Homo sapiens: one gene and its partner. The protein of the gene in region 1 interacts with the protein of each later gene in a pairwise test. Each region holds a gene or a part of one and is shown in the gene's direction. Other genes may lie near its edges.

The links. Proteins that work in one complex are often made in the same cells at the same time.
Region 2: the proteins of TMEM126A (region 1) and FBXL17 interact in a two-hybrid assay, tested with the Homo sapiens proteins (one large-scale study listed by BioGRID).

Annotation. Positions count from the first base shown.
Region 1 is NC_000011.10:85,653,595-85,658,088, forward strand, and holds the end of TMEM126A (transmembrane protein 126A), read left to right. Parts: intron 1-468; coding exon 469-662; intron 663-1,999; coding exon 2,000-2,114; intron 2,115-2,714; coding exon 2,715-2,907; 3' UTR 2,908-2,948; downstream 2,949-4,494. UniProt on the Homo sapiens protein: Protein required for the cotranslational protein quality control in the inner membrane of the mitochondria.
Region 2 is NC_000005.10:108,361,044-108,365,999, reverse strand, and holds part of FBXL17 (F-box/LRR-repeat protein 17), read left to right. Parts: intron 1-1,004; coding exon 1,005-1,262; intron 1,263-4,956. UniProt on the Homo sapiens protein: Substrate-recognition component of the SCF(FBXL17) E3 ubiquitin ligase complex, a key component of a quality control pathway required to ensure functional dimerization of BTB domain-containing proteins (dimerization quality control, DQC).

The DNA of each region.
Region 1 (4,494 bases):
GTTGTTATAAAGTACCTAGCATAGGGTATTGCTTAAATGTTAATACTCCCAATCCTGACACTAATGTTTCAGGGAAGAGTGAAAGAAATCACATTAACTCCACATTATTGAACATCTTCTGTGTCAGGCTGAATACATCTTTGTATCCATTGTCTTCTGGTTGTTTAAAGACTAGTGTAGAAGCCTGACATGTAAATCGGTGATTATATAAGATAGTACTGTCTTGTAATGTGTTGTGCTAGAGAGGTTAAGTATTAATTATTATGGGAGCTCAGGAGAGGCACCCACTGGCTGCTGGGAGAAGAGCAAAAACCTATATATAAAGCAATTTTTAAGATTTTGGTTCTATAAGGGATAGATGTCGTATCCAGTTAGTGTATTCCCAAAGTCCTATAACACATGTCAAGATCGGGAAAGCTCACACACACAATAATGCCAAAGAAAAGTTCTTTCTTCTCACCCTTTCAGGAATCTACTTGAAAATGGATCGGTTTATGTTGGATTAAATGCTGCTCTTTGTGGCCTCATAGCAAACAGTCTTTTTCGACGCATCTTGAATGTGACAAAGGCTCGCATAGCTGCTGGCTTACCAATGGCAGGGATACCTTTTCTTACAACAGACTTAACTTACAGATGTTTTGTAAGTTTTCCTTTGAATACAGGTAAATTCTACTTCACTATCACCAAAGAGTTTGCCTTAGTATATGTTATTTGCAGCTTTAGTCCATACTTATTAATATCAAGTAGCTGTATGCTGTAATGCAGTTAAGATTAAATCTTGCTAGCCTATATAATGTGGCAAATAATTCATATTAGTATGGTCTACCAACCAAGATGCACATACACAGCAGTTCTAAATACTTTTTCTTTAATTGAGATGGAGTTTTGCTCTTGTTGCCCAGGTTGGAGTGCCCTGGCGCAATCTTGGCTCACTGCAACCTCCACCTTCTGGGTTCAAGCAATTCTCCTGCCTCAGCCTCCTGAGTAGCTGGGATTACAGGTGCCCACCACCATGCCCGGCTAATTTTTTGTATTTTTAGTAGAGACAGGGTTTCACCATGTTGGCCAGGCTGGTCTCAAACTCCTGACCTCAGGTGATCCACCCGCCTTGTCTTCTCAAAGTGCTGGGATTACAGGCGTGAGCCACTGCACCCGGCAATACTTCCCTTTTTCTAACATATCTTTCTCACAGTGCTCATTTAGAGTAAGAAATATTTGGAAATCCATATATACATATATATGAAAATTATATATATGGAAATATTATATATATACAAATGTATATAAATAATATGTTGGCTACCTTAGATTTTTTATTTATATTTTATAGAGAAGTTCCTTAAAGGGGGAAAATATTTTTATGGGAATAACTCTTTATACAGTAAATCTCTTAAAGCACTAAATGCATATACATTTATCAAATACATGGAGATTTGATTTCCTTTTGAAAATCTACCATGTGTGCTGAATACTTTGAGTACAGTTAATCATAAAAAAAACTTTTGATTAATTATTTCAAATAAAAATATTACCATGGGTGCTAGGGAAGGCAGTCCATCTAAATTTTGTTAAGTGCTGCTCCAAATTTGTTTAAATTTGACGAGTATTTTGTTTTAATTCCCATGACCAGTGGAAACAATTTCTATGATCAAGGAAGACCTATCGCCCATTTAATTGAACAGACTGAGTGAAAATATTAGCCTAGGTCTGTTGATAAAAAACAAGGCAGAAAGCTAGCAGTAGCCCAAACCATGAGATTATTATATCTAAGTTGAGAACAAATTAGAGAACTTTTTTTCCTAAAATAGTTTTACCAATTATTCCTAGCTATTTTAAGTTACTCATAGATGTAATTATACCTTTTAACAGGCTTTGTACAATTACATTTGATATATTACCTGAAAAATACCTGTGATACACAAAAGAGGATCTTACATTCTTTAAATCATGTTTGCTTGACTATCATGACCTTCATTTCTATGACTAATTTATTTCCTAGGTGATTTGGATTGTGAAACCTGTACCATAACACGGAGTGGACTGACTGGTCTTGTTATTGGTGGTCTATACCCTGTTTTCTTGGCTATACCTGTAAATGGTGGTCTAGCAGCCAGGTAGGAAATAAAAAACTTTTTATAATATGTGATTACCTATAAAACTCACAACTTAAAGCAGCAAATATATTTTGTTTTTAAGGCATTTAGACCAAAGGCAATGTTACCCTCTTGATTAGAAGTTAGCAAGACCTGTTTTTTCTTATAATGAAATTCTACTTATCAAGAATTTCAAACAGTTATACTTGGTGTGTAGTTAGGCTATTAACCTTAATTTGTGTACTGAATACTAAACTAACTACAAAGCTGCAAACAGTATTATGCATGAAACTTCTATCATATAAACAATTATCTTGGATGAGTTTGAACACTTGCACTAAAGGAAAATTCCATCAGAAAATGTCTAGCTGTTATATTAGCCTTCTATTCTAAAATAATTCTGGCTATTCTCTGTTGAACTCTTGCATCAGCAATCTATGCTATAGCCTTGAAGCAAACTGGATAAAGAAACAAAAGTTTTTAGGATTAATAGACACTGAAGACCTTTACTTTAATATTCAGTTTTATCTTAAGACTTCTAGGACTAATATGTATCACAGATGGGTTTGCCATTTGATGCAACAATCTTTTCTATTGAACTATCTCAATGTTTTCTTACAGGTATCAATCAGCTCTGTTACCACACAAAGGGAACATCTTAAGTTACTGGATTAGAACTTCTAAGCCTGTCTTTAGAAAGATGTTATTTCCTATTTTGCTCCAGACTATGTTTTCAGCATACCTTGGGTCTGAACAATATAAACTACTTATAAAGGCCCTTCAGTTATCTGAACCTGGCAAAGAAATTCACTGATTTTAAACAAATATGTAAACAAAAATAAAATGGTAAAAACAGTTTATGTCTAATGTTATGTCTAATGTTATGCATAAACATAGACTTGTAATTTATCACGAGGTATAATTCTGGGACCTACAACAAAAGGCTACACAGGGCAACAAAAGGCTGAATCTAAGTAAAAGCTACCCACTTAAACAAGTTTAACTTCACGAGTTTGCCCAGTATTGTCTCTTCTACCTTGCTTGTTCTACCTTAGGCGTTGAGTTTGGTCTGTAACACAAGAGGAAAAAGTAACTATATAGTATTTTACACTGAAGACTTCATAATGACAAACAGGAATAAAAAATGAAAAAATATCTATCAATATACTATACCAAATGTTACTCACAATTCACTTTCTCAATTCAAATTATTAATCCATAGATTCTTAGAACTGATTTAACAACCTTCCTCAAATCAATCATCTTCTTGAGTCATTCAGGCTCAGCTTCAGCTATTATGATATAGACCTACCTACTTCGAGTCACCTTATTTAGAAAGCTGTATTTTTAGTTTAGGTAGTCTTTCAAGCTTCCATTTATTGTGGCATATTTAGAATCACAAAATTAACTAATCTCTCTGACCCTCAGTGAAATATCCTAGTTGGTTCATTTCCTAAGATCATTTAAATTTTTGATGTGCTTTCTTCTGTTCTCCTAACATTTCTCATCCTAGTTCTCTAAACCATTTTATTTTGTGACAGCAACTAAATCAGCATTCTCCAACAGAGCGTTCTGTGATGATGGAAATATTTTCTATCTGCACAGTCAATATGTTAGCCACTAGCCTATGTAGCGGCTGGGCACCTGAAATGTGGCAAGTGCAATTGAGTAACTGAATTTTTACTTTTAAACCATTTAAAATGTTTAGCCACGTGACTAATGCTTACAGTATTGGACAGCGTAGATCTAAACCAACACTTATGAAGCAAGCCAATCATCACAGAAAAGTACCAAACAAAATTTTAAGTGGCATCCAAGATTATTCATGAATCTCTTAATTATTACTTCCAAATAGTGACATATCTGTTAAGTCATCTTATGCTACTTAAAATTATAATTTAGAAAAGGCATCTTTGTGAGTGAAACTGGCCTTTAGCTTCTGTTTAAAGAAAAACATAAAGCTGTGCTGCCAAAGATGAAAAACTCATGTGAAATTAATAAAATACAATCTCAATTTTTCAGAAAGCAAAGATGATTTGTTCTTTCAACAGGCACATAAAATATATTATCTACCAAACTTATATAAAAAATGATCCCAGTTATGAGGCAAAAGAATCTATGTGCACAAGAGACTGAAAGGAAGCATGCCAAAATGTTTACTGTGGATATTCTATGGCTTATAGAGTTATAAGGGTGATTTTTCTTTTCTTCTTGATTCCTTTCAGGATATTCCAAGTTTTCTATAAAGAATATGCTTTACTTTTACAACTAGGGAAAGAAAGACAGAAAAATATATATAACATTTAAAGGGCAAAACAATATAGCTGTTTATTTTACAGGCTAAAATATCAAGATGAAAAGCTCTGATCCCAAATCATCCATTTTACCTATATTCTGTCAC
Region 2 (4,956 bases), on another chromosome or scaffold:
TCATGGGTTACAAATGGAAAGTGAAACATTGAAAATCTCAGTATAGTTTTATTTGTGGTGAGTTTTTGCTGAATTTGAATTTTCCCACTAAGGATAGATTTTTAGGCTTTTAATGAGACGAACACATATCCTTTGTTGGTGTTTTCTGATACCACTTCTGACATCAAATATGTGGAGTTTTTCCACACTAACAATTTTCTAACACTAACTGGATGTACAACAATTCAGTTCAACTAACTCCCAGAGGTATCACTGAGTTTAAGGGCTCAGTCCCACAAGACTACCCACACTTCAGATATCAGTTGCAAGTCCCAGAAGCCACCTGAACTTCTCACTGACCAATTATAAACTTGTGAGTTCCCTTAATTTCTTTCTCAGTTTTGATAATTAGCCACAACTATTCACTGAACTCTGGAAAATACTTACTATATTTATGGGTTTATTATAAAAGATATAGCTCAGGGCCAGCCCACTGGAAGAGATGCAGAAGGCAAGGTATGGGATATACCACCTTCTCAGCACTTTGATGTTGTTTACCATCTGAATCTCTGTCATTTGAGTTTTTATAACCCAATCTCCAGCTTCCTTCCTCTCCTGTAAGTAGTGTTGAAAGTTATCACCCTCTAATCAAGGGTTTAGTTTTTCTGGTAACCAGCCCCCATTCTGAAGCCATCTAGGCGCCCCACTCTAAGTCACTTCATTAGTATGAACTCAGATATGGTCTAAAGGGCTTGTTATGAATAACTAAAGAAATTCTATTGCTTAGGAAATTCCAAGAGTTTTGGGAAATATGTGGCAAGAATTCAGGACAAAGACCAATTACAATATTATTATTATACCAAATTCTTGTTATGCTTCAATGTTAAGACGGTTTCTCTTTTGATTATATCGTTCATGCTATAATCTAATTAGTATATTGTTTATTGTGGAACATTTAATTAAAAAATGGAAAATACGTTTTTATTTTTAGCAAAAGTTTAAATTTATTGCTTTTTCTCTTACAGGTCACTGATGAATTGTTGGAAAAAATTGCATCAAGAAGTCAGAATATAATTGAAATCAACATTTCTGATTGTCGCAGTATGTCTGATAATGGCGTATGTGTTTTAGCATTTAAATGTCCTGGACTTCTTAGGTATACAGCCTACAGGTGTAAACAGCTTTCTGACACCTCTATTATTGCGGTTGCCTCTCACTGTCCTTTACTTCAGAAAGTGCATGTAGGCAACCAGGACAAACTCACTGATGAAGGACTCAAGCAGGTAAATTTTAGCATTTATAAAGTGATTTTACTTGAATTAATTAAAAATGTTTTCTAGCAACAACATTTTAAATGGTTACGTTAAAAATAGTTCCCAGAGACTCAAGTGAATCATCTTTTTTACCTATTAATGAATATTTGTTTAGATTAGTTAACTAGAGTGCCATGGTTATAATCAGTAAATTAACTGCTTTGTTTTATAGTGAGAGCCTGAACTTCTGTGACCAGCCATTTTATAAATTTATGCTTTTGTTACTTAAATTTTTTACCACATTTTGCTTTGGGCAACTGCGTAGTTTTGGTCAGCATGAGGTTTTAAAAATTAACATTTTAATTCCCCTTTTATTATACTAGATGACATACATGCTTAAATATCTGAATGTTTAAGGGATAAATGGACGTCCAAATTGAAGATTATAAAAGTTAGAACAAAGGCCTAATTACCTCTATTTGGTACAATAACTGGGTTAAAAATAGTATTATGCATACCTTCTGTTTATTATACTTCCTTTGGAAATGGCATTTAAGGTTTCTTGGCTCGGAGTGGATTATTTATTCAACAGATGAATATCCTTAAATTTAAACCTTATGTATGAATTAACTGAAAGCTTGGTATGAAAAGAAATTTGGGAAGACTCTATCCTAAATAGTGAGTACTGGGTGTGTCAGTACAACTTATATATTAAGAATGTTACCAACTTATAAGGGAGCCTATTTTGTTTGCAAAGGCATATTGTGCAAAAAGTCTTATTTGTTTTAATATTTTTCTTGATTCATTTCTGCTATGTACAGGATTATTTACTAGCAAAGCATTTCATGAAGTTCTTAAACATATTAAATTAATCTTTTATGAAGAAATATATATTTTGTGTATATAGCATGATTTTATTTACTTTGATGGAAATTTCTCAGCAATTTATTTTTCACAATGAAACATTTTAAAAAGGTGTATGTATTAAGAACTGGATTAAATCTATTTCATATTTAATTCTGATATAACACAAATAGGTAGTAGTTTAGCAGACTTCTTAGGGTATACCTAGTAATTTTTGTGAAAAAGAATAAGATCGTAGTCATGGTTGAAGTAGAGAAGGAGCAACATTTAATATGCTAATCAAGTATTATGAATTTATCTTATATTTACAACTTTGAGAGTAATTATGTAAATCTTCTCTAGAATGTGAGGTATTTTGGAGCCTGTTACTTAGATGTTTCCTTCGGATATTTATGGTTTCTGAATTATGAATTAGTTACACGTGAGGTAATATTCTGATAAAAGTAGCAAAACAAATTTTTTTCCCCTTAGGTAGTTTTCTTCTTAAGTAATTACATAGGATCTCATTGCAGTGTAGAGAATATTTTTCTGTACTTAAGACCGCTATAGCTGGGTATGTCTGATTTCATAATAGACTCTTTCCTCTGATGGAATAGTGTTATGGGTATAGTAGAAAGAGAATGGCTTTCATATATACATAAAATAGAAATTAAGTTTTATGAAACAATACACATCCTTATGTGCAATGCACATGGATATTATCTATTCTGTTCTATACTATTATGTTAAATGTTGGCCTTGACCCACTCACTAAATTAATTTTATGACCTAGTGATATTTCATAAATCCGAATATGGATTTATATTATGGTTTTAGTAAACTGACAGTGCTATGTTAAAATGTATAATAGAGTTACGAAAGCCTAAGAGGGAACTAGCCATAATTGATGATTTGCCTGGGACTGTTATTTTTTCTTGAACTCATTAATTTAGCAATTGACTGAATTGTTGATTCTACAGATTAAGTTGTTGCAGGGTTCTGTTTTTTCCCTCTTCTGTCAGTAAAAATTGAGAAATGTTTTAGAATGATATATGTAAATTTTATTGATAATTTCTTTAGAATATATTTTCTTTATAACTGCTATAATTTTGATTGACTTTAGCGGATACCAAATATGTGTGCCTTTTGAATTCTGTCAGTTTGTTTACAAAAACAGTTGCTTATAGCATTTCAATTTGGAGCTCTAATAGATGTAGACTCTAATGTTTTAACTATTGGATTCTGCTTAACAATATTTCTTAAGCATGGTGAAGCACCTAAAAAAATCAGGCTGGTTTTGGTTGAATACTATCCTCTTTGTGAAATACCACCCTGAAATATTTATATTTTTATTTTCATAATAGTCACTCAAAATAATTTTACCAGTGGAATGTGTTCCTATTGTATATATCTTTTAAAACTACAATCATGTATCTAGAGGAAAAATCTATTTAAGAATAAAGGGCTGTTTCAATTTTCCTAATATTTTGTTATCATCTAGCACTTGCCAGTAAACAAACGATAATAGTAGTCAAAGTATTAAAATATATCTAAGAAATTGTATGCATTGTTACTATATTATGTGACTCAATTATATGCAGTTTTAGCAGTTTAACACTCCAGCTCATGGAGCTCAGTAGAAATTTCTGTAAATAAGTCACTGTAGGCTTTTTTCAGATAAAATGGTACAAAAATAATAAATGTTACATTAGTAAATTTTGATCTGGCTATGCTATCAATTTTTAGGTCTTTAAAAATAACTACTTAGAGTACTATCAGCAAAATGTTGGAGCAGGCAGCTCCAAAAGCCTGCCTCTCCAAAAAAACATTGAAAAACAAGCCTAAACTATCAGATCCAACTTTGTCAGAACTCTGGAAACGTCAAAGGTTTATAGCAACCAAAGGAATGCTAGACAAGAAAAATGCAACTGAAAGGTGGAAAGAATGCTTTGTGGGTTTTTTACTTGCCTGTGCCTCACCCATTCCCCAGCTTGGCAACAGTCTTGAAGATAGCAGTCCGAGTTCCCAGTGTGGGACCCAGATCCCTGGTTCCAGAGGGAACAGAGCAGACCTTATTTGCAAATTATTCATTTGTCTGATCAACCTACCTGAGAGCTATTTGAAGGGCTGATGCAGGTGCTTATATATCTGTTTTACCTAATTTAGAACCCAGTCAGGGAGGAAAATTAGTGGGCATTGATTGAACACAGTATAAGGCAAATGAAAGAAACTTGCTTTTGAGCAAGCTTCTTTGGGCAATAGATTATGGTGAGACATACAATTGACCTAGGAGAAAGAGCCTGGGAGAGAGTTTGTTTTTATTTTTGTTTTTGTTTTGAAATTAGGACAATCAGCCTCAGTGTATAGAAGGGAATTTTGAAAGCCGCATGCATGCCCAGGGCAGGACACTTGTTCAGGAACGACCTAAGAAGACTGTAAACTTTATCACTGTGTGCTTGCTAGGTCCAGTACAAGCAGGAAGTAAAGGCCAAGGCAGAGTTGTGAATGGTATGGCTAAGTCTTAAAGAAATATCCCAGCACAGAGCCAGTCTGCAAAGACTTGAATAAGTGCTTTTGTTTTTTGTTTTAGTTTTGTTTTTAAGCTTTGGCATCCAAGGAAATCTCTTTCAAAACACTGGCTGAACACAAGCTAAGCCTTGATTAATCAAAAATAGTGAAGCGTAGGGAAGTGGGGAGAATCTAATTTCCCAAGTTACCACATTATAATCTAATATTTTAATATTTAGTTTTCAACAATAAATTACAAGGCATGCAAAGAAAAAAGTATTACCCATTAAAACAAAAAAGAATAAATAGAACCCATTCTTGAGGAAGCCTGGACATTGGATTTACTAAAGATTTTACTAAAGATTTTAAATCC